Homo sapiens: one gene and its partners. The protein of the gene in region 4 purifies or fractionates together with the protein of the main gene of each other region. This does not show direct contact. Each region holds a gene or a part of one and is shown on either strand. Other genes may lie near its edges. The genes, in order: COPZ1, SACM1L, COPG2 and COPE.

What was found.
Region 1: the proteins of COPE (region 4) and COPZ1 purify together in Homo sapiens (affinity purification with mass spectrometry; 3 studies listed by BioGRID and IntAct, with this or other methods). This does not show direct contact.
Region 2: the proteins of COPE (region 4) and SACM1L purify together in Homo sapiens (affinity purification with mass spectrometry; 4 studies listed by BioGRID and IntAct, with this or other methods). This does not show direct contact.
Region 3: the proteins of COPE (region 4) and COPG2 purify together in Homo sapiens (affinity purification with mass spectrometry; 5 studies listed by BioGRID and IntAct, with this or other methods). This does not show direct contact.

Annotation. Positions count from the first base shown.
Region 1 is NC_000012.12:54,320,944-54,328,138, reverse strand, and holds the start of COPZ1 (coatomer subunit zeta-1), read right to left. Parts: upstream 3,009-7,195; 5' UTR 2,976-3,008; coding exon 2,958-2,975; intron 1-2,957. UniProt on the Homo sapiens protein: The coatomer is a cytosolic protein complex that binds to dilysine motifs and reversibly associates with Golgi non-clathrin-coated vesicles, which further mediate biosynthetic protein transport from the ER, via the Golgi up to the trans Golgi network.
Region 2 is NC_000003.12:45,741,385-45,745,925, reverse strand, and holds the end of SACM1L (phosphatidylinositol-3-phosphatase SAC1), read right to left. Parts: intron 2,394-4,541; coding exon 2,257-2,393; coding exon of another isoform or gene 2,191-2,256; 3' UTR 517-2,190; downstream 1-516.
Region 3 is NC_000007.14:130,665,749-130,673,590, forward strand, and holds the start of COPG2 (coatomer subunit gamma-2), read right to left. Parts: upstream 3,001-7,842; 5' UTR 2,921-3,000; coding exon 2,884-2,920; intron 1,787-2,883; coding exon 1,734-1,786; intron 1,182-1,733; coding exon 1,101-1,181; intron 1-1,100. Other genes in the region: TSGA13 (testis-specific gene 13 protein), read right to left, coding at 3,266-3,435, 5,913-6,040, 6,986-7,128. UniProt on the Homo sapiens protein: The coatomer is a cytosolic protein complex that binds to dilysine motifs and reversibly associates with Golgi non-clathrin-coated vesicles, which further mediate biosynthetic protein transport from the ER, via the Golgi up to the trans Golgi network.
Region 4 is NC_000019.10:18,916,364-18,924,023, forward strand, and holds the start of COPE (coatomer subunit epsilon), read right to left. Parts: upstream 3,025-7,660; 5' UTR 2,986-3,024; coding exon 2,860-2,985; intron 1-2,859. Other genes in the region: probable ATP-dependent RNA helicase DDX49, read left to right, coding at 3,379-3,493, 4,217-4,340, 5,300-5,385, 5,480-5,601, 5,963-6,150, 6,241-6,381. UniProt on the Homo sapiens protein: The coatomer is a cytosolic protein complex that binds to dilysine motifs and reversibly associates with Golgi non-clathrin-coated vesicles, which further mediate biosynthetic protein transport from the ER, via the Golgi up to the trans Golgi network.

The DNA of each region.
Region 1 (7,195 bases), on a different chromosome or scaffold from region 4:
ACGCCCAGCTATTTTTTTTTGTATTTTTAGTAGAGACATGGTTTCACCATGTTGGCCAGGCTGGTTTCGAACTCCTGACCTCAAGTGATCCGCCCACCTCAGCCTCCCAAAGTGCTAGGATTACAGGCATGAGCCACTGCACTGCGCCCGACAGAGATACTTTCACATATAACTCCCCCAGCTTACCCACTACACACAGGCCCATTGTTAAAAGGGCTCCCCAATTATTATCTTCCTCATTCCTTTACCTTTAAGCAGGCTCCCTTCTAAACATATATAGGTAAGTCTAAAAACTTCCAAAAAAACCAATTCCCTAGAATCTATCCTAGTCTGCTAATTGGGTTTAGGGGGAGGTTTTTTATTCTTATTTTTTTAGAGACAGGGTCTGGCTTTGTCACCCATGCTGGAGTGCAGTGGCACAATCATAGCTCACTGCAGCCTCAAACTCCCAGGCTCAAGCGATCCTCCTGCCTCAGCCTCTTACAGTGCTGGGATTACAGGCATGAGCCACTGCACTCAACCTCTTGATTAAGAATACTTGCTGCCGGGCACGGTGGCTCACTCCTATAATCCTAGCACTTTGGGAGGCTGAGGCAGGTGGATTGCCTGAGCTCAAGAGTTCAAGACCAGCCTGGGCAACACAGTGAAACCGTCTCTACTAAAATACAAAAAAGTTAGCCAGGTGTGGCAGCACGTGCCTGTAGTCCCAGCTACTCGTGAGGCTGAGGCAGGAGAAATTGCTTCAACCCAGGAGGCAGAGGTTGCAGTGAGGTGAGATCACACCACTGCACTCCAGCCTGGGTGACACAGCGAGACTCTGTTTCCAAAAAAAAAAAAAAAAACTTGCTAACTGGCCGGGGTGCAGTGACTCACACCTGTAATCCCAGCACTTTGGGAGGCCAAGGCAGGCAGATCACTTGAGGTCAGGAGTTCAAGACTAGACCAGCCTGGCAAACATGGAGAAACCCTGTTTCTACTAAAAATACAAAAATTAGCTGGGCATGGTGGCGCGTGCCTGTAACCCCAGCTACTCAGGAAGCTGAGGCATGAGAATTGCTTGATTCTGGGAGGCGGAGGTTGCAGTGAGCCAAGATTGCACCACTGCACCCCAGCCTGGGCAACACAGCCAGACTCTATCTCAAAAAAAAAAAAAAAAAAAAAAAAAAAAAAAAAAAAAGAATACTTGTTAACTGCTTGGTACAGAAAATATTTAAAACTACTCAGATTTTAAGCTTTTTACCTATATTTGACCAACCGACATAAGGAATTAACTGTCTTTAACTGAAAGAGAGGAATTAAAACCTGTTATTCTTTTATCTGATGAGGATCTGAATGTGTATGCTTAGGAGATCTGAAGGAAAATAAAAGACAAGCTTCTTTGGAAAGAGGCCTAGAGTTCAAGCCAATTAAGGAAGAAGGCTGGGAGTTAAATTCCTACACTATACTACCTACCTACCTACACACACACACACACACACACACACACACACACACACACCCCTCCAAATCGCAAAATAGGGCACTTTTGAGAGAAATTCTCTGGTCCAGTTCTAAAAAGGGGTAACAGGTATTTTATTTGTTAGAACAAGCATAAAGCATCATATGGACAAGAGGGCTAATACAGCCCTTTAGCGACCACAATTCTCATGTAACCAGAGAGGGAGAAATTAGCATCCTAGATCATACAATAAGAATTCCTGGCCCGGCGCAGTGGCTCACGCCTGTAATCCCAGCACTTTGGGAGGCCGAGGCGGGTGGATTACGAGGTCAGGAGATCGAGACCATCCTGGCTAACACGGTGAAACTCCGTCTCTACTAAAAAATACAAAAAATTAGCCGGGAGTGGTGGCGAGCGCCTGTAGTCCCAGCCACTCCGGAGGCTGAGGCAGAAGAATGGCGTGAACCCGGGAGGCGGAGCTTGCAGTGAGCCGAGATCGTACCACTGCACTCCAGCCTGGGCGACAGAGTGAGACTCCGTCTCAAAAATAATAATAATAATAATAATAATAATAATTCCTGGCCAGGCGCGGTGGTTCAAGCCTGTAATCCTAGCACTTTGGGAGGCCGAGGCGGGCGGATCACTTGAGGTCAGGAGTTCGAAACCAGCCTGGCCAACATGGTGAAACCACGTCTCTACTAAAAATACAAAAAAAATAGCCGGGCGTGGTGGCACGCGCCTATAGTCCCAACTACGCGGGAGGCTGAGGCAAGAGAATAGCTTGAACCCGGGAGGTGGAGATTGCAGTGAGCCAAGATCGCGCCACGTGCGCACTCCAGCCTGGGTGACAGAGCAAGGCTCGGTCTCAAAAAAAAAAAAAAAAAAAAAGAATTCCTAAGGTCTAAATGGGTAGAGAAAAGGAGAACAGAATAAGGAGTCTAGAAAAAATATTCCACAATCCATGCTAACTTTATCAGGTATCCCAGAACTTTGATGGAATACTGATTATTTGACAAACCTATATAATAGGGATTAACAGGAAACCGAAGACAAAACAGTTTCCTGAAGGAATGTGGCAGGGAATCGGCAATGGAGAGTCAAACTTGGGAAACCATCAGGAGGAGTCTGTAACGACAAAACATCTGTATTCTTTTCTTACAATATGGGGCGAGTTTGGTGGTTTGGTAAATTAAAATCAGGGTATCATCCACAATGCTAAAAATAAGGGGCAACCTGAAGGGTCCTAATCCAGTACGCCTACAGGTCTGTGTATCCTAAGGAGTCCATGTGCTGCCTTCAACTTTCCACCGACTCTATGCCCTCTCCCCGGCAGGGCTTCCTACTCTAAACCAAGGCTTTAGCTCCTACACTAGGCCACACACTTATTCCAAAGGTCAGCAGAACGCTCAGTCCCCAAGAATTACCCGGAACTCTCTTTCCCCGTCTCCCACTCGGGCTGAACCCTGACTCCCGGCCCCTGTGGACACCACAGCATCTCTGCTGCCCCTCCAGCTCCTACCAAAATCAGCGCCTCCATCTTGCCCCGCAGCTGGTGCCGACGTGGAGCCGCAAAAGAAACGCCGCCGCTGATTGGCCATACGTTCCCATTAGGCCCCGCCTAGGATAAGGATCATTGGGTAAGGCTTGCTTTATTGGCCAATTATTGTACTAGCTTGCTTACCGGAAGCAAAGTGTCCAACCAGAAGGCTCAGGTGTTTGATTGTCAGCTTGAATACTCAATAAAACGCCAAAACCTCACGACTCATTGGGGCGGGAGGGTTAGTGGGGCGGGGTTGTTTCCATGGGGAACAGAAGAAGCGATTGTTAATTTTCAATTGGTAGGGCCGAGGACACGTGATATTGTCGGACTGATTTAGCGATTTTTAAACCGCACCCTCTTTAGGGGGCGCTGTGTCTCCTTAGCCTTTAACACTGGCGCTTTCTAACCGGAATCCTGCCCTAATCCCTATTTTCAGCGCCCGCATTAGGTCCATGATCTCTGTGGCTAGCCCTTCCCTCATGCTCGCTCAGGTCACTTCAGCATCCTCACAGAAAGTCTGCACAACCATAGAGTAGAGCCAAGAAAGGCCCAACATGTTAACTACATAAACCAAGGCTGCCAGGAGTTGATAGTCGCAATAACAATCTCCCTAAGGTGGAGTTCCAGGCTTTGCTGGGCCTGAGGAACATGAGAAGTCAGTTTGTAAAGGCCAACTTGAGCTCAACGTGAAATCGGCTTTGGAGATGGGGTTTGCGGGACAAACGGGGAAAGGGATGGGATTAGAATAAGAGAGGGGTTATAGGGAGTAAATTCTGGGGTTTTCCAATAGAAACAAGCCGTTGTGCCTGGGCGCGGTGGCTCAAGCCTGTAATCCCAGCACTTTGGGAGGCCGAGGCGAGCGGATCATCTGAGGTCGGGAGTTTGAAACCAACCTGACCAACATGGAGAAACCCCGTCTCTACTAAAAAAAAAAAATACAGGCCGAGCGTGATGGCTCACACCTGTAATCCCAGTACTTTGGGAGGCCGAGGCGGGCGGATCACGAGATCAGGAGATCAAGACCATCCTGACTAACATAGTGAAACCCCGTCTCTACTAAAAATACAAAAAATTAGCCGGGCGTGGGTGGCGGGCGCCTGTAGTCCCTGCTACTCTGGAGGCTGAGGCAGGACAATGGCGTGAACCCAGGAGGCGGAGTTTGCAGTGAGCTGAGATCGCGCCACTGCACTCCAACCTGGGTGACAGAGCGAGACTCCGTCTCAAAAAATATACATATATACAAAATTAGCCGGGCGTGGTGGAACATGCCTGTAATCCCAGCTACTCGGGAGGCTGAACCAGGAGACTCACTTGAACCTGGGAGGCGGAGGTTGAGGTGAGGCGAGATCTCGTCATTGCACTCCAGCCTGGGCAACAAGAGCGAAATTCCATCTCAAAAAAAAAAGAAAAGAAAAGAAAAGGAGAAGAGAAGAGAAAAGAAAAGGAGAAAGAAAGAAAAGAAAGAAAGAAAGGAAGGAAGGAAGGAAGGAAGGAAAGAAAGAAAGAAAGAAAGAAAGAAAGAAAGAAAGAAAGAAAGAGAAGGAAAGAAAGGAGAGGAAAGAAATGAGGCGTTGCAAAATGAGAAAAGAGAAGTTTACTGAATGCAAGAATTTCACAATAGGGAATGATTTTGATGAAGCTTGGCTTTCCCCTATCCCTTGGTTTCCTGATCCCTGACTCCTCTTAGGGCAGGGACACCTATTACCTTAATTATCCTAAAGGGATTTTTTCCCTCATCTCTGAAAATTATATCCTTAGGAGCCCTCCAAGAAGAGATTCCAAACTTACCCAGGAATTTTTCTTTTTTGAGACGGAGTCTCGCTCTGTCCCCCAGGCTGGAGTGCAGTGGCTCAATCTCGGCTCACTGCAAGCTCCGCCTCCCGGGTTCACGCCATTCTCCTGCCTCAGCCTCCAGAGTAGCTGGGACCACAGGCGCCCACCACCACGCCTGGCTGATTTTTTGTATTTTTAGTAGAGACGGGGTTTCACCGTGTTAGCCAGGATGGTCTCCATCTCCTGACCTCGTGATCCGCCCGCCTCGGCCTCCCAGAGTGCTGGGATTACAGGCGTGAGCCACTGCTGCACCCGGCCTTTTTTTTTTTTTTTTTTTTTTTAAGACGGAGTCTCTCTCTGTCGCCAGGCTGGAGTGCAGTGGTGTGATTTTGGCTCACTGTAACCTCCGCCTCCCGGTTGCAAGCGATTCTCCCTGCCACCTCAGCCTCCCTTGTAGCTGGGATTACAGGCGCCTGCCACCCCTGGCTAATTTTTGTACTTTTAGTAGAGACGGGGTTTCGCCATACTGGCCAGGCTGGTCTCGAACTCCGGACCTCAGATGATCCACCCGCCTTGGCCTCCCAAAGTGCTGGGATTACAGGCGTGAGCCACCGGGCCCAGCCACCCAGGAATTTTTCTAATAGTCGGAGTAGAATCAAGGAAACATAAAACAATACAATACAAGGGCGCTGTGGCATGTGCCTGTAGTACCAATTACCCCAGGGGCTGAGGCAGGAGGATGCTTGAGCCCAAGAGTTCGAGGCCGTAGTGCGCAGTGATTGTGCCTGGGAATAGCCACTGCATTCCAGCCTCGACAACACAGGGAGACCCAGTCTGTATATAAAAATAAGATAAAATAAAAAATTGAACAATACAATGCAAATTATAGACCTACAGTGTACTCTGACAGAAGGTGAATTTCTGGTGGAATACCAGGTGTTAAGCCTTATATCTGGAAGAAGTGAAGGCTTGTCCTTTTATTCCTCAAGGAGAGTTGTTCACACATTTACTGTGCCTGGCATCACAGTCAGTGGGTTGTCATTGGCTTTGCAGCTTAAAGGTAATACTAACATTTACTGCCCACTTATTATGTGCCAGGCACGGTGCTAAATCTTTAAATACATTATTGAATACATTTTTTAAAATCCTTATGAAGTAGCTGGGCATGGTGGCTCATGCCTGTAATCCCAAAACTTTGGGAGGCTGAGGCAGGCAGATCACCTGAGGCCGGGAGTTCGAGACCAGACTAGCCAACATGGTGAAACCCCGTCTCTACTAAAAATACAAAGATTAGCTAGGTGTGGTGGCAGGTGCCTGTAATCCCAACTACTCCGGAGGCTAAGGCAGGAGAATCTCTTGAACCCGGGAGGTGGAGGTTGCAATGAGCGAGATCCTGCCATTGCACTCCAGCATGGGCAACAAGAGCAAAACTCTGTCTCAAAAAAAAAAAAAAAAAAAATTCCTGGCCGGGTGCGGTGGCTCACACCTGCAATCTCAGCACTTTGGGAGACCGAGGCGGGTGGATCACGAGGTCAGGAGTTTAAGACCAGCCTGGCCAAGATGGTGAAACCCCGTCTCTACTAAAAATACAAAAAATTAGCCGGGCGCGGTGGCAGGCACCTGAAATCCCAGCTACTTGGTAGGCTGAGGCAGGAGAATCGCTTGAACTCAGAGGGCAGAGGTTGCAGTAGCCGACATTGCATGCTACACTCCAGCCTGGGTGACAGAGTGAGACTCCGTCTCAAAAAAAACAAATAAAATAAAAAATCCTTACGAAGTAGATGATTATTAAACCCATTTTACAGATGAGCAACATGGAGTTTAGAGCAGTTAAATAATTTACTTAAGGCTACAGAACTGTTTTAGCAGCCATACGTTTGAGCACAGGAGACTCTAAACCATGTTCTTACCCACAGTCCACTCCTCTAGTTTGTTGTACTGCCTCTCTTGCATCCCAGTCCTACCTCAAGGACTCTACCTCAGTGCCAGATATTCTACAAGGACCATAAGGAGGAAAAAGTGTGGTATGGTTGGTTCATGGGGATGGTTGGCTCCTTTTTCTGTGTAGTAACTGACAAATTTTAAGTCAGATATTGTTGCAGAAGATCGCTTGATTCTTAGCTCTCCAGCCTGTTGGGGTAATTGTGCTGTGGGAGGAAGACAATTGACTGAATTAGAGACATTAGTTATTGTTGTGACTTTGCTTTAATCAGTGAGAGAACTCTGCAAGTCTCTGTACCCTCTCTGGATGGACTATAGCTGTCACTTCTGGAAAGGGGAGAGGTTCAGACCAGAGCTTTCTAGGGCCCTAGCTAACTTTTTTTTTTTTGGAGATGGAGTCTCGCTCTTGTTGCCCAGGCTGGAGTGCAATGGCACACTGTCGGCTCACCGCAACCTCTGCTTCCCAGGGTTCAAGTGATTCTCCTGCCTCAGCCTCCCGAGTA
Region 2 (4,541 bases), on a different chromosome or scaffold from region 4:
TCATAACTGGAAAGCAAAATTGCAGAAGCTACTGATTTTCTTGCTTACTCTAATTTTTCTATGATGATCATGCATTGCTTTGTGTATTAATTTGTCTTCACACTGCTGTAAAGAACTACCTGAGACTGGGTAACATATAAAGAAAAGAGGTTTGACTCACAGTTCCGCATGGCTGGGGAGGCCTCACAAAACTTCATCATGGCAGAAGGTGAAGGGAAAGCAAAGCACATCTTAACACGGTGGCAGGAAAGTGAGCGAGCAAGGGGGTAAATGCCAAACACTTTTAAACCATCAGACCTCGTGCAAACTCATGAAAACAGCATGGGGGAAACCATCCCCCATGATCCAACCACCTCCCACCAGGTACCTCCCTCAACACGTAGGGATTACAATTTGAGATGAGATTTGGGTGGGTGGGGACACAGAGCCAAACCGTCTATCATTTTGCATGATTTTTAGCATTCTAAGATCAAAAAGAAAAACATCACTTTCAAAGTACATGAATGATACCAATAATAGAAAAGAATATGACATTTTATTTTCACTTATGGACATACAGTACATGAATTTAGAAATAAAATCGTCGCAGGATTCTGAAATACTGATACCTTAAGATCTAACACACTGATATTAGTCCATTCCCTACAAAGCAGCCACATTAGCAGTTCAGATTTGGTCTTTGTTGTAGCTGTTGACATTAAGTTCTTTAAGTGAAATGCCCAGCAGCATTTAAATAATATTTTACAGCAGACATGAACTAAGTTTCAATATTCCATCTTTGGAACAAATTATGCTTATTTACATGTTAACAGGTGGCTATATTTACTTACCCTATTGTGAGTTTAATGACTGATTTTAAACTACAGAGGGTTTTCCAGCTATTATTTCCTTTAGTTTCTAAAAGTAACGACTTATATTAATGTTTTATAAAAGATAGTGATGAAAAAAAGGTAATGCTGAAATAAAGGCGCTTTTAGAAATATTTAAGGACAACATAAGGTATTAATATTGGAAAAAAACTGTACATATTTTCAAGCACAACACTGAAATATTGCAGCAGTGTTTAACTGAATTATTTAAAATAGTGGTAATTATACTACCTTACATACCGTTCTAATATTTAAATCTCTTAATTACAATTTGAATATACAATCTGACTTACAATTAGAACTATGCACAGTTTCCGAAGCATATTTTTCAGGTTTGTTTTTGCACAAAAATTAACGTTTAAGTTGGTCCTTGATTTGGAGTACTATAACTACCTGGAAGCACTAAGTTTTAGACACATTCATTGATAGCCAACAAAATCCTTGACAGAGTGAAAAACATCAAGAGTACCATGCGTGAAAAAGCAGCTGTTACCCTCCAAGTGCAATATGAAATCTAGAACAAGACCCTCTCAGAGGCCTGCGTGTCTCAATGAGTGACCCTCAAAGAAACCAAAATGTATAGGAGGAAGTAGCTGACCAGTCATGGGCATCTTCCACATTGGGATAATCTTTAAAACAGAGGCAGCTTTGGACCTCTAGCGTAAGAGATAGACTTTACATTCTTTGATTTTATTTACACTTTTTTAAAAAGATAAAGTATATCTGAATTCTCTCATCACACCTAAACTGCTGGTGCACTGGCAGTTCAAGCTGATTAAAGTCATGAGGCAGCCCACCAGAGACTTTAAAGAACCCCAGACCTCATCCTCCTCTTTCCTATCATGAAGTCACAGACTGTCTCATCAAACTACTTGATGTCTGTAAGAGACTTACATTTTATAAACACAGTTAGCTTATTACTGAACTTTTAAGAAAAGTCCAAAGATGTGTGGAAAAGTATGCCTGCTAATAGTGACCGCTTCTACAATGACAATAATGAAACTGAGCTACAAAAATAATTTTGCTGTTTTAAATAATGAAAGGAGCTAGGTTTTTAAAATATATTACTTATTCTGCAACAGCTAATTAAATTGACAATCAATAGAATACAATGAACAGATTCAGCTTCCATTCTGCAAGCTGAATTCAGGTTATATTTTAATTACAGAATAGCTTCAAATTATAAATCTAACTGTCCCAATAGTAAAGAGACCATCAAGGCAGTAACATCAGATCAATTCTGTCATCATCCTGCATGGAGCACAAGATGTGCTTTTGGATAAAGGCATTAAAAAGACCTTGGGCTGATGTGGAAAGCGGGTCAGTAAAGACTCCAGTTCTGCACAATGGAATCTTCCAAGCCAAGCCGCTTTCCACAAATACAAATTCAGTCTATCTTTTCTTTCTGGACCAGTCTGGGAGCATCGACAAAATCTTTGCCATTGTAAAGAATGATAAAAAATGTTCCAATGCTTGCAACTCCCCAGAAGAGCACATAGGCCAGTGTTTCTGTCCAAGTGTCACCTGTTGATATTAAGAAACAAAAAGCTAAATAAGTCGTTTGTTGATATCAGACCCAGTTTTCAGCTGTTTAGCACATTTTGGCAACATTAAAGTTTACTAGCACATTCACAGGAAAAATATAAGAACCTCTTAATTAAGGTTTAAACCAGTGGTTCTCAAACCCTGGCTAGTACCAGAATCTTCTGCAGGGCTTGATAAAGCATCAACTGTTGGGCCCCAGGAATCTGCATTCTAGCAAGTTCCTAGTACCCAGGTGATGCTGATGCTACCGATCAAGAGGCTACACTTTGAGAACCACTGGACTAAATGATTTCATATTATATTATACAAATAATAATGATCACTTTTAGTATATTTTAATAATACAAATAACTATTAAGTTTAATTCATAGTTCTATAACAGATATGAGCTATTGTCAAAACACCTGCACAAAAAATTAATAGAATATTCATAAATACCAAACATAAGTTATACATAACTTTTCTGAAGTTATGTATATTTTGTAGAGTATTTTTTGCATATACACAAATATATAAAACAAAAGTCAATAACATTTTCTTTAGAGATGGGGTCTTGCTGTGTTGCCCAGGCTAGAGTGCAGTGGCTATTCACAAGCACCATTCCACTACTGATCAGCATGAAAGTTTTGTCCTGCTGTTTCCAACCTGTACTAGTTCACCATTCCTTAGGCAACCTGGTGATCTCCTGCTCAAAGAGGTCACCATATTGATGCTGAACTTAGTGCGGACATCCGATCAGCATAACACACTACAGACCAGAACTCCTGGGCTCAAGTGATCCTCCCACTTCAGCCTCCTGAGTAGCTGGGACTATAGGCACACACCACAGCACCCAGCCAATAACCTATTTTAATGACATATTTAACCCAACTCTGCTGATATGCATTTTCCAAAGTCCGAAGTTCATAAAGGTTAGCAGCAAGCCGGTGGGCAAAGATCTACTTTGTTTTACTCCTTGAATAGCTGAACCTAGAGAATAGCTTCTCTCTCTGCAACACTACTGGCCTCATTTGCAGAAGGAGAAATACATACAGGGAATGACAGCCAGTGAGCACACCACGGAAGAAACTAGCATCCAGACTCCTTCCTAACAAGCCCTCAGAGATCATGCTACATTTGTTTTCTATTCTCTTTGAAAACCACAGCAGGAGCTAGAAATCAGATATTACCATAACCAAACATCACAAAGTTTATCATAAGAATAAACTGACATGAGAAGTTACCATCCACAGCATCCAATCTCTTTTTACTCAAAATATACTCGAATTTGCATAATTGCTCATTTTCATGGCTCTGAAGTTTAAAATTCTTCTTGGACAAAAGAAGAAGGGCAGTTCCTTGTTAGCCACTCTGCTGGACACTCCCTAAAGGAATCATCCGTTTCATTCAAGCAGAGTTCTTGGTCTTGACTTTCCTGCCTCTCCAGAGGTTCTTTAAGTAAATGTGGGTATAGTCACAACAACAAAATGAACTAATTTAACAGTAGAGTGGCTCCCCAAAAATGGCATGCGCTGGGCAGTGTTTTCAGGAAAGAAGGCAGAGGACCCAGAGAGGAAATGAAAGCAGGGCTGGCCGCTGAGGAACCGGCACATGCTGCCTCTTCCTTCCTGCCCTAAAACCTGCAGTCATGTCCCAGGCAATACCTGTGCTTCAACCTGTTTTTGTATTGTAAGGTAAGAATGCTTTTTACATTTTTAAATGGTTATAAACACAAAAACAAAGAATGTACAGCCATCCATAAAGACAAAAATATTTACTACCTGGCTCTTTACAGAAAAATTTTGCTAACTATAATAATAATAAGATGGCTCTTTCTTTCCCCCTACTCAACATTTCAGCATTTAGTTAAAACTATGTCACGACTGTCTACAGGGCTGAGCACTGAGGGGAATACAGAGATGAACAGGTAACTGAGCCTCCCTATCAAAAAGGTGACAGAATTAGTGGTGGTGGTGGAGTGAGTCCTTAATTCAGCAAACATTTACTGAGGGCTCACTATATCCTGGACAAAGGAGATAAAACAATGAGTAAGACACAGTCTTTACCTTCAAAAAGTTGCTGATCCAGTGAAAAAAACAAACAAGTATGCAAATCATTACCATCCAAAAAGAAATACACACTGGGTAT
Region 3 (7,842 bases), on a different chromosome or scaffold from region 4:
CTGATACTGAGGGAATATGAATCCATGAAACAAAATCATATTTTCTAAGGCCCTAGACATTTCATGAGTTTTTTTTAAGTCTGGGGCAAAAAAAAAAAAAAGAAAAAGAAAAGAAAAATTAATAACAACAGCAGCAAGCAGAATCTACATTTCATGAGCGCAAATATTTTTGCTGGTTTGTCTGCTATATCCCCAACACCTAAAACAGTGCACAGCACACAGCAGCTACGCAATAAATATTTGCTGAATGACGGAAGGAAAACTATTCCTGAATGCTTACTGTATGTTCAGGACTATTCTCAGTGCTTTACACTAATTATCTCATTTAGTCATTACAACTCTGTAACAGGTATTATCATAATCCCCATGTAGAGAAAAGGACATCAAGGCACATAAAATGGTTAAGCTACTGCCCAGAATTATTCTGCTAGTAATGGTAGCATAGGGATAATAAATATAAAATCTGAATATTAACAATCAAAGCTTTAAAACATCATTACACACATAAAAAAGAAAATATCTGGAATTTGCCTGATCTTGCACTGTATTTTCAGAAAAACATGAAGATCTCCAAATACATGTAAACAACATGCTCTAACTAGTACTCATTAAATTGAAACCAAAGGATTTATTGAGAATCTACTATGCGCATCACTGGTTTAGGATCTCATGAATAAAAAGGAAGTATAGGTTAAACATCTCTAATCTCAAAATCCAAAATCTGAAATGCTCCAAAATCAGAAATTTTTTGAGTGCCAATATAACACTCAGTGGAGACACTCATCAGAGCATTCTGGATTTCAGATACTCAGATTAGCAATAGTCAGTGAGTATGTATTCTGCAAATATTCCAAAATCCAAAAAAATCTGAAATCCAAAACACTTCTGGTTCCGAGCATTGCAAAGAAGGTATACTCAACCTGTATATGTCATAGTCCTCGTACTCAAGTTTTACATATTATTTTGTTAACCAAACGTTGTATATGTTAAAATTAAGTGAATTTAAAATAAATAAATATACTTTCCAGAAAGTATTTCACTGAATCTTCAGTATTTCTATTCCAGGACACACTTATCTGAGGAAAATAAAAATAATATACCTGGTTCAGTAAGTAAAGAATCTTTGTAAGAATATGCAAACATCTTCTTGGATTGATTGGAGTTTCATTGAATATACGAGCCTATGAAAAAACATAAAAAACATTGCTACTTTTCTACCTTTTCTATCACAGATTATAGCAAATCAACTTTAATACAGACTATTTTTAATCACGGTATCCAAAGAACATTGTCTATAGTTCTCAATTTACTAAGGTATCTGATAAATTATTACACGTGGCCTTGATTTTCCATCCTATACTTTCTCATTCCCTTAGGTTGACTACTTCAACTTTATGGGCTATACCAGTTAAATAAGGATCACAATACTTATCTATATCATACTAATACAATGAGATTAATACAGATAACTGATTTCAATAACCTTGCACTAAACACCTGTTCTTACATTTAAAATTCCCAACCTGTGACAGTCTTCATGTCTTTGCATTTCTATAAGCTCCAAATTCTCCTGTGACAAGTAACCCCTCTTTCTTTTCCCTCAAATCTATATTCCCTAAACTCTGTTACGTTTCTTGTTTTGCATGTCGTGATCACAGCAGCCCAGGGATTCTCTGCCCACCACTCTAAAACAGAATAGAAAAGAAAGGGCACAAGATACTTCCCAGTCATACCTCCTGTAAAACAGCACTCTTCTCCAGATGCTGGAAAGGATTGGAGCCACTACCTATTTATAAAACAAAACAAAAAAATGTCCTGAACAGCTGTTCTACACAAACTTATATACTTTCCAGAGAAGGGTACTGAATGCTTGGGAAGTGAACACTTGGATGGCACAGTGATAATCATGGCTAATACGCATACGAACTGAATGAAATCATTTTGATCCCGGCTCTGTCACTGCCATACTCGAAGAGCTGAGACTTCTCTTTCGCAGCAACCCTCTCCAAAATGAGTGTCTTCTTTCCCTGCCCTCTTTTTCCATGAATGTTAAAAATGTGTCATTTCCACAACAACGAAGATTAATGAGATTGTAGTAGGGTGCTTTTGATTTCCTTAGGTAAGCAGTATTTTATGTGTTTCTAACACTTAAGGAGAGGCAGAAACGAAGTTTCCCAGAGAATCATGCAGGCGTAAAGGTGCAAGAGGCCATGGAGGTTGACTAACCCAACCCCCTCTCACACTGTGGGAGATGCTACCAAACACTGAGAATTTTTTTCTTTTTGAGGATGCTTGGCATCTTCCCCATTTGCTCTGGACCAAAGACGGGCATCAAGACGCAGGTCACTTCTGGACACCTGAGCATTCAACGAGCTGTGTCCCACGGGACAGTCTTGCCCCCGGGGACCTGGACAGAGCCGGTGACCCCAGGAAAACGATAAGGTACCAGGCACCTGAACGTTCCTCCACACACACCCTGTGCCGTCGACCCCAGCCCCGGGAACAGGGTGCTCCCACTAGGGGTCCGACCCTACCAGCACCCCTGGACGCGGAGACGCGCGCACGCCCTCGGCCCCCGCCGGAGGCCCGCGCGCAGGGGAGGAGGCGGCTCGGAGGGGCTGCGCCGCAAGAGGGGCGGGAACGGGGCGCGCGCGGGCGCCGGGGCGGGAGCGCGCGGCCCGAAGGGAGGCTCCGGCGCCCGGGGGAGGGGCTACGGGCAGGCCCCGGGCAGCCGCGAGGGGAGGGGAGGGGCCGGCTCCAGCTCCGGCCCCCTGGCACGGCGGCGCCCACGCCCCCAGCCCCGCCGGCCTGAAAGCAGGTGGCGGCGGGCGGGGGAAGGGGCGTCCCGCGGCTGAGGGTGGGCCTCGGAAGCCCCGCGCGTACCAGACTCCTCGTCCTTCTTGTCGAATTTTTTAATCATCTTGGACGACTTCCCAGCGCCCAGACCCACCGCAACCGTCCCAGGCGCCGCAGCCGGCGAGCGGAAGAGGCTGCAGGAAGGCCGGCCCCGCGCTCTCACGCCGGTTGGGCCGCCGCGCCTTCACTCGGGGCCAAGGCCCGCCCTCCCCGGCCGCCCTCGGCCCCCGGGACGCAGCCACGCCCCCTTCTCCTCTTGCGGCCCGCCGGAGACTTCGGCTCGACCCTCCCGGCTTGCGACCCGGGAGCCCACGCCCGCAGCAGCAGGAATGTGGTTTTATTTGGGTGGCGACTTCTGCGGACCCCTCAGTCTCAAGAGAGCGAGGCGGGAGGACTGAGGGGTCTGTGTTCACCCGATGACCGTGGCCTTTTTGATAATCCACTGCGGGGCCCTCCCGTTGCGGAAGGCGCTCTCCCCGGGCGCGGTTCTGGTGGGCATGTCTTCCAAGAGCGATGCGAGTGTCAGTGGTTCCCGAATCACTTTGGAAATTGGCCTTTCACTCGCTGACTTCTTGGAAGCTACGACAAAGCACAGGCACCCTGGTGAATGTGGCTTTTCAGAAGTACTCGAAGGATACTTAATGTGAGATGTAAAGGAGACGCACTTGGAGGGACCAGAGGCTGGTCTTTAGAGGGTAGATTTTGGACCGTGTAATACCATTCCCAACCTATTTTATAATTTTTGGATTCCTTCATTTCATCAAAACCCAGTGGAAAATTCATTGCCAGTTTAGAGTCTTCCTTGTTCAAGCCTATTTCTTTCAATGATTCCATCTGAAACCATATTGACACTTAAGAAACTCACTAAATTAACGTGCATTCATTCCTAACTCATGTTCCTCTTTTTCTCAGAGTGTATGCTGGCTTTCTGTTCTCTTGTCTAAGAGTGTAGCTAAGAAACTTTGTCTGCCTTTGGCTTCACTGGCATAACTTGTTTAGAAATGTAAATTGGGTCTATACTCAACAGGATCGTGCCCCTGCAAAATTAGAGAAATTCTAACCTAGATTACATTCTACATCCTAGAGAAATTCTTTCCCTGAAATACAGATTTAAGATGAACTGTTGATATCCTACATATGGTATCATTTAAGATTTAACTCCGACTTGACTAAATGTACTATTAACTACTATGTTTGCTTTATATGGCTTGTAAAGGTCAAGTCATACTTTGTAGGTGGAGTTTTCTTTGAAGGAAATAGAAGTCTGCACTCATTTATTCTGGGGGTGAAAATAAACAGGCTTTGGGGAAGGAAACATCCTCTTCCTCTTCCTTGGCCCAAGGGTATTGGGAACCTAGGCAGAGACAGTGTAGATAATAGGCCCAGAGGTTCTCAAGGTGGGTAATGCCCCGGAGACCTGCTGAGAAGTAGAAGGACCTGAGTTCAGATTTGGGGCTGACCCTAAGACTAGCCCCTTGTAAAGCAAGATCAATCATTCTCTGCTGTTCTTCAGCTTTTCTGTATATCTATGAAGTTTTGTTTAATACCACAGGTTGTTTTTAGCTGTGCAGTATTTACGGAGTTAAGAGCATCAGTAGGTGGAAATGGGATGGGATGTGGTGGCAGATAGGTATAGCAGGAGCAGAGAAGCCTGAAGAAGCCAGTTAAGGGATGGTATAATATGACCCCAGGCCTTCGGTATCAGGACTATTTGGACTGAGGATGGCTGGCAGACGGGTTGAGCAATCACTGCAATGGCTTTGTGGGACAGGCAAGGATACCTTAGGGAGTCTCAGGAATTGTTTGAGGAGAGAAACCCAGTAGGAGAAATGGACCTTATCTTAAAACCATGAGCTGGTGAAGTCTGAGGACCCACCAATTATATATATCTAATACACAAATGTGTACTCAGTGCCCTGAAATTCTTCATTGGGTCCAAACTGCCTACTGGATAAAACCCAAACCTTTATTTAAATAATATTTAAGGCATTGTGGTATTTTCGATTTCTTGTTATTGTTGTTTGTTTGTTTTTCAGACAGGGTCTCACTCTGTTACCCAGGCTGGAGTGCAATGGCATAATCACAGCTAACTGCAACCTTGAACTCCTAGGTTCAAGCAATCCTCCTTCCTCAAGCCCCCCAAGTAGCTCAGACTACAGGTGCATGCCGCCACACCCTGTTAAATTTTTTTAAATTATTTTTTGTAGAGACAGGATCTCACTATGTTGCCCAGGCTAGTGTCAAGCCCCTGGCCTCCAGCAATCCTCCTGCCCCAGCCTCCCAAACTGCTAGGATTACGGACACGCCCAGCCTGTCAAGGCCTTTTATGATCTGTTTCATCTCTTTCACATATTGAAAGTGATATTGTTGGTGCTTGGTAAGTGTCAGACACTTAGTAGGAACCCTTGAAATACTGTTAAATAAATGATAATATGTGAGGAGGATTCTCATTGTACCCTCTGCCATACAACCTTATTCCAAGCCCCTTCTACCCCATTCCCTACCCCAATCCCAGAGACTTTTGTACCTCTAAGACACACAGACTTATCCTTTGGCCCTTTTAGAGCAGTTTTTTCTTCAAAGTATAATATGCATACCACTGGGTGGTTCTAGGTGGTACATAGATAAACATTTTAAAATTTCATTATTATAAATTTGATATAAGTGTTTCAGAAAAGCATATAATTTGTACATCAAAACCATGATATCAATGATATAGTATTAATTAGGACAAGATTTTTTAAAAATCCTTTTAAAAAATGCTAAGTAAATTAACAGCAAATAATACATCAATATGGCAAAAACTATTAAAGTGCTGGGTGATATAGCTTAGTAAACACTGCTAGAGCTTTCTTGAAATTTGAGGATTTAAACAGGGTCCAGAGCTTTGCACCTTTTGAGCCTCTATTTGTTGTTAACTTCCATGCTATAGGGAAAAATAGTCTCCAGGACTACCACGAGAGAAGCCAGTTTGCCACATCTATAATCCTCATGGATTGTATCTCCAGCCCAAATCTCAGTCCAGTAAGCCTTTGCTTTGAAAGAGAGGAGCTTACCATCTTTCCTCATATCTCTCTCATGGACTGGAGCAAAGGTGAGCTGAGGGTACATTTTCTTCTGTGTCCTCAAAGCGTAGACTTTTGAATACTTCCCTTCGCTCTTGAAATCATTGTCAGTGGAAAACCTTAACAAAGAAAGTTCTTTGTTTAGTAGATCCTAGGGCAGGGGGATTCATGGAACTATTCACTTTATTTTATTTTATTTTATTTTATTTTATTTTATTTTATTTTATGTATTTATTTTGAGACACAAGTCTTGTTCTGTCACCCAAGCTGGAGTGCAGTGGCATGATCTTGGTTCACTGCAACCTCTGCCTCCCAGGTTCAAGCGATTCTCCTGCCTCAGCCTCCCAAGTAGCTGGGATTACAGGCACTTGCCACCACGCCTGGCTAATTTTTGTATTTTTAGTAGAGACGGTTTTCACCATGTTGGCCAGGCTGGTCTCGAACTCCTGAGCTCAAGTGATCTGCCCACCTTGGCCTCCTGAAGTGCTGGGATTACAGGCATGAGACACCGCGCCCAGCCCCACCATTCACTTTAAAGTTGGCTACATTCTCAGAGAAGACAAGACAATGATAGGAGCCTGTTGATTGGTGCCAAGTAGGAATATTGTTCCGTGACAAGGGATGCTTCTGAACTTAACACTGTAAACCTTTGGAGGAACTCCAGAATCTCTTCTGTCCTCTCTAAACTACACATAGGCTGCTCTTGTAAGTAGTTTCACATAAAACCTCTTTTGTCTAATGTGTTCTCATAGCACATGGTTCCTGTGATATAGCGCCTAACTTGTATTGAGGGTACTTTTTTTTTTTTCCTGTTTCTTCAAAGCACAGACCTTGGAATATTTCCCCTCAATCTTGAAACCATTGCCAGTGCAAAACCTTAGTTTTGCATGACTGTTTCTCTTTGATTCATGTGTCAATGAGGTTAGGGTCATGTAGGGAAAGTCGTGTCTTACTATCTTTGTACGACCAAAGAATATGTCATTAAATTGTATGGCAAAGAACCAGAAACGTGAATAGGGAAAAGATAGGAAAGAAAGCAAGTACAAGAAGAAGCAAGATTTCACCTAAACCATTGTTCTCGCTTGGATGTGGGATCATCCGACAGTATCAAAGGGAAGATTGGTTTCAGCTTAGATCTTAACTTTTTTTTCTGAGGCATGCGGGGCAGCCAGAGGTTCTCAGTGGGTTTGTGCTGATGATGACTTTCCTGTAGGGAAACGAGGGAAGAAGAGTGAGGGAGTAAGCTGAGTCCCTTGGGATTTTAAGTTTGGACCAAGTTCCTGGACTAAGTTCCAATTCCCCTACAATCATGCAACAAAACCTGTCAGAGGGGGAAGTGGGAACTCAGAAACCAGAATCAGAGGAAGCCGTTCCCTGGGAGGGAAAACACTCTTTTCATTGCCAGATTACTTGTCCAAAACCTGTTCAGTTTCCTAAGTAATTGATTAAATTTGCCTACTGGCCCTTGGAAGTGAATGGCAGAGAAAGTTACCCAGTTTGGGGAAGGATTCAACCAGTGAAGTCCTTGGGGAAGTAAGTATTTGGCAATAAATTGGGAAATAGATCCATGGGACTTTACCTTCCTTTCTTGGAGATGGCTGCCTCATCCACATTCCATTCTCCTTAATGAGAAGGCCATGGAATGGGATGTTGTGAAGTAATAATTATACCATTACTAAAGGTCATAGAATCAAAGTCTTTCAGAAAGAATCTTAAGTCATCCAGTCTGTTTGTCTGTCCCTCCTAGCCCTTCCATAATCTCACTATCAAGTGCTCAATCTTTCTTTACCTAAAAAAAAAAAGATTTCACCTTTGATCAGCCAATAGATATCTCCCTGTAACTTTTACCCTATAGTCCAGAAGGAACAAATCTAGTCCTTCTTCCATAGAGTCCTTAAACATTTTGAAGGAATTCATCACA
Region 4 (7,660 bases):
GTATTCCTGGCCAGGCGTGGTGGCTCACACCTGTAATCCCAGCACTGTGGGAGGCTGAGGCGGGCAGATCACTTGAGGTCAAGAGTTCGAGATCAGCCTGACCAACATGATAAAACCCTGTCTCTACTAAAAATACAAAAATTAGGCCAGGAACGGTAACTCATGCCTATAATCCCAGCACTTTGGGAGGCTGAGGCAGGCGGATCATGAGGTCAGGAGTTACAGACGAGCCTGGCCAACACAGTGAAACCCCATCACTAGGAAAAATACAAAAATTAGCTGGGTGTGGTGGCACACGCCTGTAGTCCCAGCTACTAGGGAGGCTGAGGCAGGAGAACTGCTTGAACCCGGGAGGCAGAGGTTGTGGTGAGCTGAGATCGTGCCACTGCACTCCAGCCTGGGCAACAGGGCAAGACTCCATCTCAAAAACAAAAAAACAAAAAAAAAATTAGCTGGGTGTGGTGGTGGGCACCTGTAATCCTAGCCACTTGGGAGGCTGAGGCAGGACAATCGCTTGAACCCAGGAGGAGGAGGATGCCACTGCACTCCAGCCTGGGTGACACAGAGTGAGATCCTGTCTCAAAAAAAAAAAAAAAAAAAAAAAAAGTATTCCTTCACAGTCACAGTCCTGGAGGCCAGAAGTCCCAAATCAAGGTGTCAGCAGGGCCACACTCCTTCCAAAGGCTCTAGGGGAGGATACTTCCCTGCCTCTCCCAGCTTTTGGTGACTGTTACATTCCTCAGTTTGTAGCCACATTACTCCCATCTCTGCTTCCATCATCTCTGTGTCTCAAATCTCCCTCTGCCTTTTTTTTTTTCTTTTTCCAGTGGCGGGTTCTGGTGAAGACAAGAAAGCCTACTAGAAACATTCTTTTTTTCTTTTTTTTTTTTTTTTTTTGAGATAGGGTCTCACTTTTGACATAGTAAGAGCACCAACATCTCAGACAAACACTGCCACTTTAAGTTCCAGCCCCCTTTCTAGCCTCATGAATTTTAAGGAAATTTCTTTTTTCTTTTTTTTTAATAGAGAAGTCTCGCTCTTGTTCCCCAGGCTTGAATGCAATGGCTGGATCTTGGCTCACTGCAACCTCCACCTCCTGGGTTCAAACGATTCTCCTGCCTCTGCCTCCCAAGTAGCTGGGATTAAGGTGCCTGCCACCATGCCCGGCTAATTTTTGTATTTTTTAGTAGAGACGGGGTTTCACCAAGTTGGTCAGGCTGGTCTCGAACTCCTGACCTCAGGTGATCCGCCCGCCTCCCAAAGTGCTGGAATTACAGGTGTGAACCACCGCGCCCGGCCAGGAAATCACTTCTAACTACAAGCAGCCAGAAAGAGGAGACAGTAAAACACAGAAAGACAGCTCGGACAGAGAGAGAGTGGGAAGAAAATTTCTTGGGTAACTGCCAAACTTCACCTTCATACAACGGGCCCCAGTAAAACAGTGGGCCTTAATAAGCACATTCCTTTCCCTTCAGGTGCACTAAAATAGGCAAGCTAAAAGCAGAGTAGGGGGGTATGCCTGCAGCTGCAGAAAGATGTATGGGAGGCTGGGCACGGTGGCTCACACCTGTAATCCCAACACTTTGGTAGGCCAAGGCGGGCAGATCACAAGGTCAAGAGATGGAGACCATCCTGGCCAACATGGTGAAACCCCGTCTCTACTAAAAATACAAAAATTAGCCGGGCCATGGTGGCGCGCGCCTGTAATCCCAGCTACTCGAGAGGCTGAGAAAGGAGAATTGCTTGAACCTGGGGGCGGAGGTTGCAGTGAGCCGAGATCACGCCACTGCACTCCAGCCTGGCAACAGCGCGAGTCTCCATCTCAAAAAAAAAAAAAAAAGAAAAGAAAAGAAAAGAAAAAAGAAAGATGTATGGGAACAGACACACAACTCTCCCTCCCAGATAAGCACAACGAAGAGACACAGAAGCAGTTCAAGCCTCTGATAAACTCTCCGACCCTGAATCCTTAAAAACTCTTAGTCTGTAAAAGAGTGTTACTCTGACCCAACTCCGCCAGAAGGCGCCTCTCAGGTTTGTTTTCTCTAAAATAAACCTGTCTTGACTGGCAAGCCACCTTTCGTGTTTCTTTCCTCTTTAATTCTTACAACTTTGTCACCCAGGCTGGAGTGCAGTGGCGCGATCTCGGTTCACTGCAACCTCGGCCTCCGGGTTGAAGCGATTCTCCTGTCTCAGCCTCCCGGTAGCTGAGATTACAAGTGCCCGCCACCACGCCCGGCTAATTTTTGGTAGACTCATGGTTTCTCCACGTTGCCCAAGCTGGTCTCGAACTCCTGGGCGCATGCGATCTGCCCGCCTCGGCCTCCCAAAGCGCCAGAATTACAGGCGTTTGAGCCACTGCGCTGGGAAACTGTGTTTATCATTCTGAGTCCAGCGGAATACAGTGCCCGTCCAAAAAAGTGCTCAATGAAGAATGAATGAATGAATGGGTAAGCTCTGGGAGAAATAACCAGGCTGGTTGGGCAGGGAAACGTCCTTCTCTGAACTTTAGGGTTCTCATCCGTAAAATGAGGATAAGCAACAGTCTCCATCTCACGGGAACTGAAGGTATGGCTGAACAAAATAGGCTTATTGTCACTACAGTGGCATAAACACCTCCCTTACTCAAAACACTTTCAAGGGCGCAGAGAGAACGCTGTACGAGTGAGCAGTACCGTAAACTGTTACTGCTCTGGGTTCTGTCACGGGACAGTGACTACTCCTCACTGAACTGTGGAAGAGGTGGCCCAAAAAACGCGAGAAGAAAAGAGAAAGTTTTTAGACGCAGAACGCGGCTCGCGGCCACCAGAAAGCGTCCTCCGCCTCCGCCCCCAGCGTCCCCGCGCCCCTGCGCGGCCGCACCTTCACCCGCTGCGCCTCGTTTATGCACTGCTGGTAGCTGCCGATGTAGAAGGCGTTCTTTACGTCGAACAGCTCGTCTACCTCCCCGGAGCCGCCGGAGGCCGGGCCGGGGGCCGGAGGCGCCATTTCGCTGTCTTCTCACCAGCTCCTCTTCCTGAAAGACACGTCAGCCGGAAGCAAGACACGGGCACGCTAGGAAATGTAGTTTACTTTTTCCGAGCGGCGGCGAAGTAAGCCAATGGGAAGCTCCACAATAATATGCAAGGGGGCGGAAGGCGTAAGTGCGTCACGGAGAGCATCTCGGGAATTGTAGTGTGTTTCTGCAAGCCAATGGGATCCGGGGAAACATGATAAGGATGCGGTCGAGGCTGGGAATAGGCTGAGGGAGCTGGAGAGGGTGGGACCACGCAGGAGGCAGATCCAATAAACAGGAAGATTTTTCTCGTGACGTCGTCGGCGCGCGCCGGAAGCGCGGATCACACGGGCCCCTACAAGGGGCCCCTACAAGCGGCCACAAGGATGGCAGGCTTCGCGGAGCTCGGGCTGTCATCGTGGCTCGTGGAACAATGTCGGCAGCTGGGTTTGAAGCAGCCCACGCCCGTGCAGCTCGGCTGCATCCCCGCCATCCTGGAGGGTGAGTATGGCCCAGGGCCTTCCCCAAGAGGCCTCTCCGCTCCTCTCGACTCCTTTCCCTTCTCGCAACCTTTGCTTATTCCGGTCCCACGAGGCGAGGGGCAACCTCGGGCGTTACAGGAGATCCGGGGTTCCGGAGGACGACTGGACAGTGTTGGCATTTAGGTTGCATGACTGACTCGCTTTGTGTTCGTACGCAAGTGATGTAATCTCTGAAATTTTCATAGTCTCAGCACAGGGAGGGTTTGATGGATGACTAGTCCGATAGTATCGCAAAATCCTGCAGACCTGGTACTGCTATCTTTATTTTACAAATAGAAGTTGAGGCTGTCAAAATTGCTGGTAGATCCAGGACTCCTTGGTCCTGTGATTGCTCCTCTAGGAGAAGGTCTTCTCTCTGCTCCTCTAGCCCAACCCAGTTTCGCCATTAAAGAGAGGCCCACAGGAAGCCTAAGATGTGATAAGTCAGGGATTAAATAAACAAATGAAGGGGTCAACAGGGAGCACAAGATGCATATGAGGGAAGGGAATTCTGGATTCCCCAAATTCACGTGCTCCTGGACGGAGTTAGAACGAGGTGGTAGGAAGCTGTGGGCATCTCGGGTCAAATGGATATGGGTTCCAGTCCAGCCTGCCACTCACTGGCAGTGTGTCCTGGGCAAGGTCTCTGAAACCCAGCTGTCCACACATGGAGGGTGTTGATGCTGCTTTGTCCCCAACCCAGGTCGAGACTGCTTGGGCTGTGCTAAGACAGGCAGTGGGAAGACAGCAGCGTTTGTCCTTCCCATCTTGCAGAAGCTGTCTGAGGATCCCTATGGCATCTTCTGCCTCGTCCTGACACCCACCAGGTAAGCCCCCAGCAGGCCTCCTGGGTATGGGTTAACCAGCTGTGCTCTCTTGGGCAAGCACCTTTCCCTCTCTGAGCGCCCTTTTCCCACGTGTGAGATGAGCATGAAAATCTTGCTACCCGCTTCTTAGGGGTCCTGCAGAATTAAACAAGATGGCCCCGGTGCAGTGGCTCACACCTGTAATCCCAGCACTTTGGGAGCTCCAGGTGAGCGGATCACTTGAGGCCAGGAGTTTGAGACCAGCCTGACCAACATGGAGAAACCCCGTCTCTACTAAAAATACAAAAAATTAGCTGGGCATGGTAGCGCATGCCGTAATCCCAGCTACTCGGGAGGCCGAGGCAGGAGAATCGCTTGAACCCAGGAGGCGGAGGTTGCGGTGAGCCAAGATCGTGCCATTGCACTCCAGCCTGGGCAACAAGAGCAAAACTCTGTCTCAAAAAAAAAAAAAAGAAAGAAAGAAAGAGGCAGGCAGCAGAAAGGGTACTGGGACCTGGGCATATTGGAGCCAGTTTGAGAAAGGCCTTGAATGCCAGGCGGAGGGTTAGAATTGATTCTGGGGGTGTGTGAGCAGGAAAGGTCATGAGCCAGGGAGAGGCCAGGACAGAGTTGGTTGGGGGCAGAAAGGAGGCTGATGCTTGAGACCCTCTGGCTGGGGCAACTGGCTGGTGGTGAGGCCATTGCTGAAAGGCGAACTGGGGGAAGGCACAGGTTTGGGATAGGAAGAGATGCTGAGGTCAGCTTGGGTCGGGCTGGTGAAGGAGGGATGTTCCAGGCTGAGCCTGGCGAGGGGGCAGGGGCCACAATGGCCTCCAAGGCTCAGCATCAGAGCCTTTGTGAACAGGACTGGGCAAGTCAGGAGCCTGGGGGCTCAGGGAGGAACCCTGGGGATGGAGAGGGGAATGGGGGGCAGGTCCAGAACCACTACCTGACCCAGCCTGGCCCCTTCACACCCACAGGGAGCTGGCCTACCAGATCGCAGAGCAGTTCCGGGTCCTGGGGAAGCCTCTAGGGCTGAAAGACTGCATCATCGTCGGTGGCATGGGTACGGGAGCTGGGAGGCGGGGGAAGCCCCAGCATGGGACCCTAGCAGCTTTGGACCACCTGCCCAGCCCTGCCTCTCATGCTCTGTCCCCCAGACATGGTGGCCCAGGCGCTGGAGCTCTCTCGGAAACCACACGTGGTCATCGCCACGCCGGGGCGCCTGGCAGATCACCTGCGCAGCTCCAACACTTTTAGTATAAAGAAGATCCGCTTCCTGGTGAGTTCGCCCCGCCCCTGCAGACCTCAGGAGCTGGGCTCGGAGCCTCCAGGCCCAATGTCAGAGCCTGGGGCACCATCTCATCCATTTAGGAAACGTATGTCCGTTAGACTGTCCAGTAAAACGCTAGGAACAGTGACAAGGACCGTTCAAGGACCAACAAGAGGGGGCCCAGTCCTAGCAATGTTATTCGGGGGTAGGGCCTTGCTGAGACTTGGGTGAGGGGCAGGCCTCCCTTGGAAGGAGGGTACTCCAGGGCCTAGGGTCCATGTCCATGCCTCTCAAAGAGGCCTGCTTCAGGGGTGGCCAAGACCCGGGGCCATGGACGGCACCCTCACCCCTGCCCCCATTGGCACGGCAGGTGATGGATGAGGCAGACCGGCTGCTGGAACAGGGCTGCACTGACTTCACCGTGGACCTGGAGGCCATCCTGGCGGCTGTGCCGGCCCGCAGGCAGACACTGCTGTTCAGCGCCACGCTGACCGACACACTCCGGGAGCTGCAGGGTCTGGCCACCAACCAGCCCTTCTTCTGGGAAGCACAGGCCCCGTGAGTCCACAGCCCAGACAGCGTGGGGAGGGCAGCCCCATCCTACAGACAGGGACACTGAGGCGTGGCGGTCTATCTGTCCATCCCCAGGGTGAGCACCGTGGAGCAGCTGGACCAGCGCTACCTGCTGGTGCCTGAGAAGGTCAAGGACGCCTACCTGGTCCACCTGATCCAGCGCTTCCAGGATGAGCACGAGGACTGGTCCATTATCATCTTCACCAACACGTGCAAGTGAGCGGGGCCCGCCTCTCCCCTCCCACCGCCCTTCAAAGGAGGAGGTGGCCCGACGTCTTTGGTCTGGGACACACAGCCAGTCTCAGCACTCCCCAGCCTCTGCTCAGCCTGGAGGTCATGGGGGCTTCCCTCAAGGAGCCAAGGTCCCTCAATCTGAAGGTGCAGCCGGCCTTTGGGGTTCCTCAGCCCAGCCGTTGATGGAAGGGCCAGGAAACCCCTGCAAGCAGCTGTTTGAGCAGCCCATTTGCTGTGTTCTGGGGGTGTCACTGAGCTTTCCTGGGCCTTTAGTCCCATCTCAGAGGAAGTTGTGACAACTAACAGGCCTGGTGTGCGTCTGCACAGACAGAGACCCCTGGGGAGGGCAGTTCATATCTTCATTGAATTGTTTGGGAAGGTCATTGAGAAGCTGGAGGCTCTTCCAGCATGAGCCAGGATAGAAGGGCAGAAATCAAGGCGCTTTAAATGCGTTACCTCCCAGAAGAGAAAAGTTGGGACTGGGTGCAGTGACTCACACCTGTAATCCCAGCACTTTGGGAGGCCGAGGTAGGCGGATCACCTGAGGTCAGGAGTTCGAGACCAGCCTGCCCAACGTGGTGAAACTTCATCTCGACTAAAAATACAAAAATTAGCCAGGCATGGTGGCGAGCACCTGTAGTCCCAGCTACTGGGGAAGGTGAGGCGGGAGAATCACTTGAACCCGGTAGGTGGAGGTTACAGTGAGCCGAGATCACGCCACTGCACTCCATCCTGGGGGACAAAGTGAGACTGTCTCAGGGAAAAAGAGAGAAAAGTTTGGCTGCAGGGTGGCTGTCAGGCGTGGCAGGATCCAGCAGCTTATGTGATGGTCCCCATCCTTTCTCCCTGTGCCCCTCTTTCTCCTCTGTTTTCCTCTGCTGGCTCCTTCTTGGCCTTCTTGGTAACAGTGACCACCCCTAGCAAGTCAGTTTCCAGCCTTCCAGCCCTGCAGTCCCAGGGCCAACTCTTGTCAGTTCCAGCTCCAGGGAGGGATCAGCAGAGAGGACATCAGGCAGGCAAGCCGTCTGTCAACCCTCATCCTGCCTCTTTTTTTTTTTTTTTTTTTTGAGAGTCTCACGCTGTCCCCCAGGCTGGAGTGCAATGGCGCAATCTCGGCTCACTGCAACCTCTGTCTCCTGGGTTCAAACAATTCTCCTGCCTCAGCCTCCTGAGTAGCTGAGGCTACAGTCATACACCATCATGCCCGGCTAATTTTTGTGTTTTTAGTACAGATGGGGTTTTGCCATGTTGGGCAGGCTGG